Regions from separate parts of the Homo sapiens genome. Here region 1 is linked to region 2. The links come from fine-mapping of genetic effects on gene expression. Tissue or cell type: substantia nigra. Region 2 holds a variant in brackets; the other region holds the start of a gene. All regions are shown on one strand. Distances are from middle to middle.

The links. PIP is the estimated chance that this variant, and not a neighbour inherited with it, causes the effect.
Region 1: it holds the start of C1QTNF6, and the variant in region 2 is fine-mapped to the expression of C1QTNF6 in substantia nigra (GTEx, PIP above 0.99).

Annotation. Positions count from the first base shown.
Region 1 is chr22:37,186,640-37,189,380 of GRCh38, reverse strand. It overlaps C1QTNF6 (C1q and TNF related 6), which reads left to right and starts at 1,134. Exons shown (of 3, transcript NM_031910.4): 1 at 1,134-1,218. The coding sequence starts at 1,168. IL2RB-AS1 (IL2RB and C1QTNF6 antisense RNA 1) reads right to left here. Exons shown (of 2, transcript NR_199008.1): 2 at 2,559-2,741. RefSeq lists enhancers at 1-124, 125-760, 761-1,394, 1,395-2,030.
Region 2 is chr22:36,865,737-36,868,236 of GRCh38, reverse strand. It overlaps NCF4 (neutrophil cytosolic factor 4), which reads right to left. Exons shown (of 10, transcript NM_000631.5): 4 at 775-845. The region is part of intron 1 of NCF4-AS1 (NCF4 antisense RNA 1); the gene reads left to right. Among named protein-coding and RNA genes, the nearest start is that of NCF4-AS1, 3.5 kb to the left of the region's middle. The variant G/A (reference allele first, on the strand shown) is at 1,337.

The sequences.
Region 1 (2,741 bases), 320 kb before region 2:
GTAGTCACAGGAAGGGATAGGAAGTTGGCAGGACTGGTATCACAAGATACAGGTCATCAAGACCCTGCTGAGAAACAGTATGCGGTAAACAAACCAGCCAAAACCTGCCAAATCTAAGATTGCAATGAAAGTGACATCTGGTCATCCTTATTGCTCATTGTATGTTAATTAAAATGTGTTAGCTTGCTAAAACACACTTCTACCAGCACCAAGACAGCCTACAAATACCATGGCAATGTCCGGAAATTACCCTATATTGTCTAAAAGGGGGAGGAAGCCTCAGTTTCAGGAAATTCCCACCCCTTTCCTGGAAAACTCATGAATAATCCACCCCTGTTTAGCATAGGATCAAGAAATAACTATAAAAATAGCCAACTAGCAGTGCTTGGGGGTGCTCTGCCTATGGAGTAGCCATTCTTTTGTTTCTTTGCTTCTCTAATAAACTTGCTTTCACTTTGCTCTGTGGACTTACCCCAAATTCTTTCTGGTGCAAGATCCAAGAATTCTCTCTTGGGGTCTGATCAGTACCCCTCTCTGGTAACACTTGCATGATACCTGAGGAGGTCAGCCTGGTCATTCACCCAACAAACATGGGTTAAGCCCTCCCATGTGCCTGGCACAAAGGGGGCTGAGGACTGCAGTTCTGGAACACCTAGGCTCTGAGAGGCGACGCGACTGTGGTAGCAGGGCCAGGATTCTAGCCTGTGCCTGGAGGGCCAACACCTGCACCTTCTCTGCTACCCACCCTGCCTCTGTGACTCAGAGCAGTTAAGCACTTTAGCTCAGGGTGGACTCAGGGCTGCCTCCCCCTTCCTGAGCAACCTAGGGGCTCCTGTGCCCCATGCCTGTGTCCATTTCCCAATCATCAGGGGGCCTCAGACTCCTGCCTGCTCTGACTTTCTAGGCCTTTGAATCAAGCAAGACCCCACTGGATCACCAAAGAGTTAAGCAAAGGAAATCCCTGCCTCCCTTTATCTCCGCAGAACCCAGAGGCTGAAAGGGAGGGAGCAGGGAGGAGGGGAAGTGGGAAGCGGCTCTGCCCTCTCCCTCCGCCCTCCCTCCGCCCTCTCTCCCTCCATCCCCTCCTCTCTCCCTCCTCTGCTGGGCCTGGGGGTCTGGGCCAGCAACAAGTTAGTATTGCAGACATGGGCCAAGGAGCCAGAGGCCATGCAGTGGCTCAGGGTCCGTGAGTCGCCTGGGGAGGCCACAGGACACAGGGTGAGTGACCAGAGGCTCCTCAAGCTTGGGGGCTGGGGTCAGAGCCTGGAATTCCTCTCCTCCCTCCTTGCTTCCTGGAAGCATCTCGGGCCCTGCTCTCTCCCTCTGACTGGGACAGCCTCTCCAGGCTCTCCCCTCCACATTTCCTCCTGCCTCTGGCTGAGGGCTGCGCTCCACTGCTCCCGGTTTGTGCCCGCCCCTACCCGGGCACACACAAACTCAGCTCTGCACGGCCTGCCTGGACCGAGAAAAGTTGCCCTGCCGCTCCCTCCCCAAAGAGGTCCCAGTGGAAGCAGCAAGGACCCCAAAAGTCCTCCCTATGACTTGGTTCCCACACTTGGTCCCTGCCTGGCACCCACCCCCAGAGCTAGTTCGTGATCCTGGCTGTGGTTATGATTCCTCGTTAACGGCTTCCTGATTCCTGCTCCCAGGCCACGGTTCTGTGTCTCACAGCCTTTGACTCCCATCCGCTGGGGCCAATAGGAAACAGAAATGCTCCCAAACCATGCCAGTCCTCTGGGAGAAGTTCTCCTTCCCATCCCATGCAGGCACAGGGAAGAAGTCAAAGCACACTTTTTTTTTTTTTTTTAAGTCTTTTATAAGGCAGGCACTTTTCCTGCATTGAAATCCTTCCAAATTACCTGGGAGGGAAAGGGTGGTGTCATTTCCTTGTAAGTATCAAGGAGCAGGAAGCCCAGAGAGGTTCAGCCACTAGCCCTAGGTCACACAGCTTGCAAACTATTCTGGGTCTCAGATTTGACTCTAAGACCTCAGCTTTTCTCATGAGGTCATATCTGTGGCTGGGAAAAAGAAGGGAATTTTGGGATTTCCAAAACCACTGGGATTTGTCATTTATAAGTAAAAGTTGAGGATGACAGTCTCAGACAGGGAGGATGTTGATCTCTGAGGATTTGACCTCCTTATTGAGCAGAACCAGGAACCCAACCAGGGTGGGCAGAGAGAAGCTTGGGAAGAGTCACCTCCAGGAAGAGGGAGGTGGCTCTGGAGACTTCCTGTCCAGCCCCCTTCTCCTGCTGCTACCATCCAGCTCTGGGGGTGGGGGGCAGGGCTCCTGCCGCTTTATTTATTTTTAGTTTTAATTTTTGAAAAATAGAGACAGGGTCTCACTATGTTGCCCAGACTGGTCTCGAACTCCGGGACTCGAGTGATCCTCTCTCCGTGGCCTCCCAAAGTGCTGGGATTGCAGGAGTAAGTCACTGCACCTGGCCATCCTGCCCCTTTAAAACTCTGCCCTCACCTCAGTGCTCAGCTGAGACAGGGTGGCATTTTAAAAAGTAATAATTGTACCTTGTCTACATGTATTAACCACAAAAAAAATATTTTTGAATTCTACTAAATGTTAAAGGAGAACAAAAAGGAAATAAACAAAGAAACGCCAGAAGTGTAAAAACCAGTCTGGTTTCAAAAGCAGAGTTTCTGATCCTGTGATAACTCGGCACCAGCCCCCAGAAGCTGCACCACCTCAAAGGTCTTTTTGCCCGGCTTCCTGCCCACCCAACCCA
Region 2 (2,500 bases):
ATGCCGCTGGGCTGGGAGGAGGGCTTCGCTTGCCAGCTTCCTGAGGTCACTATCAGGTCTCTAGCGACGGTGCACTCACTGCCACCTCATGAGGAACACTGCCCCTTTCCTGGATGGCTGTGGCTGGTGGAAGTCCTTTCCTGACCACCTTGGCCTCTGCCTTTAAGATGCTCCTTCCTCTACGCTCCCATCTCATAGAGATGCAGAGTTTGCAAGTCGGAGAATACACAAGGGCCCCCAGCCAAGACCCATGAGTGTAGCTAAAATCCAGCCCATGTTCACGTAAGGGAGTGAGTTGTCCCAGAGGAGGCCTACTCTAGTTTGCACAAAGATGCTATATGAGCAACCTGCGGCCTGCTTGGCCACACCCCCATGATGGAGGCACACATATGTCTCCGTGTGATCTTATGATCCACCTGTTGGCATTCCCATAGGACAGTGGGTACCTTGGGGGCAGACACTGGATGGAATTCACCTTTGTATTTTAACTCCTGGCATAGACATTCACCTGTGGGGCTTGGAGCATTAAATGAAGACTTGTCAATTCCTAGTGTGGCTCTTTTACCTTCTCCGTTGCTCCTGCTCCTATCTCTGGAACCCTAAGGACGCATCCTGTTTTACTCCCCAGACCAGGCCTTTAGGGATTGAAGATGGGGCCATCAGAGCCAGAGAGCCAGCCCCAGTTCCCAAAGCCATACCCAGGGATGGTACGTGGGCTCCCCCACCAATACTGCATGCCCTTCCACGTGCCAAGGTGGCAAGGCCCACTGGTACCTTCATGTAGGCGTTGAGGGCAGGTATCCGCATCTCGGCGATCTCCTGTTTCACACCCACGTAGACTTTGGCTGAGAAGAGACAAAGAGCTGTCCTAGGAGCCTGGCCCAACATGGCCCCGGGGCTCAGGGCTGCCCCTACAGGCCAGGAACCCTGGCCAGAGCCCCTTCCCGATGGCTCAGCATTCTTCCCTGTTATCTTTTCACAGCACTGAAGTGGCCACTCTGGCACCATCCAACTTTCATCCTCTCAGTTGTGCTATCACCAGCTGATATTTTTCTTGTCTTACTTTTTTATTTACTGCCTGTTCATCCAAGCGCACACACACACACACACACACACACACACACACGACTCTTAGTTCTAAGAGAGCAGGATTTTCACCTGCTTGGCTCACAGCTGTACCCCCATCACCCAGGACAGTGGCAACACCGGCTGCACATTCAAGCTACCCAAGGAGCTTGTAAATATCTCACTGTGTAGCACTTGCCCCAGAGCAATTAAATCAGAATCTCCGGGGGCAGGACTCAGGAACCAGGATTCTTTCCATCTCTCAAGGCAC[G/A]TCCACATACCACCAAAGTTAAGAACCATGGGTCTAGAATCATGCCCAGATGAATGAGCATTTGTTAAGTGGATGAATGAACAATTCCTCAAGCTCAAGGCAGATGTTCTGGAGGAAAAGGAAATATGACGGGCTACCAAGAGACAAATGTCCCCTCCAGGTGCCTTCATGTGGGCGCACTGGTGGAACCATTCACCAAGAGAACCCCTACGAGGAAGCAAGTCTGAAACCTGCCTGGCTCCTGGTGTCCAGGAGATGGACAGAGGTGATGGCGGCGGCGGTAGGAGGGTCTGGGCTAGAGCTAGACATTGGGAGTTAGGAGCAAAAACGTGACAATTAAGTCCCAGACATGGGTCAGTTTGCCAGGGTGAGTGTTTGGAATGAGAAGACAAGGCAGGGGAGAGAGGATGTCTGCTCAGAGGATCCCCACCTTCCAAGGAGCAGCAGAGAAGGTTGATTCTGTAACAGAGAAGCTGAAGGAGTCTCTAGTAAGCTAGGAAGGGGATTGGGAGACACTGGTGCCTCAGGAGGTTGGAGAAAGCTTAACAGAGGAAGGAGTGGGGGTGTGAAGATGAGGCTTGGCACTGGCCATGGAAGCCAGAATTGATGGGTCATGGCCCACCTCACCGAGAGGAATTTCAGTGGAGTAGTCAGAGCTAAACCAAGCTGAGGAGTTAAGGAGAGGATGGCCATGCCAAGGTGAGACAGTGCGTGAATTTGATGCCAAAGGAAGAAGAAAGAGAACTTTGGGGGCCCTGGGGGCACGGAGGCTCAGGGAGGCTTGTAAGAATGCTGTTTCATGGCTCAGGATTGTTTAAAGACAGAAGAGGGTTGAGGCTGTGGAGACGCTTAGCAGAGGGAGTTGGTATATCAAGAGGAAGATGAATATACAAGGAAAAGGAGGGGTAGATTGTCAGGAGAGAGCCCCAAAAGAGAGAGGAGGGAAAATGATGGAGCCTGAGAGGGGAGGCTGGCTTAGAGTAGGCAAGACTCCTAGGGGGAGCTTCAAGTTCCTTGGTGGGGCTGGATGAGAAGGAGCGGGGTCATATGCTGAGACAGAGAGAGACAGAAACAGAGACAGAAAAAACAAACTGGAGATGGGGTTGGAGCTTGGGGAAGGGTCCCTGAGGCTTGGGGAAGGGAGACAATTGTCCCTGTCTCTAA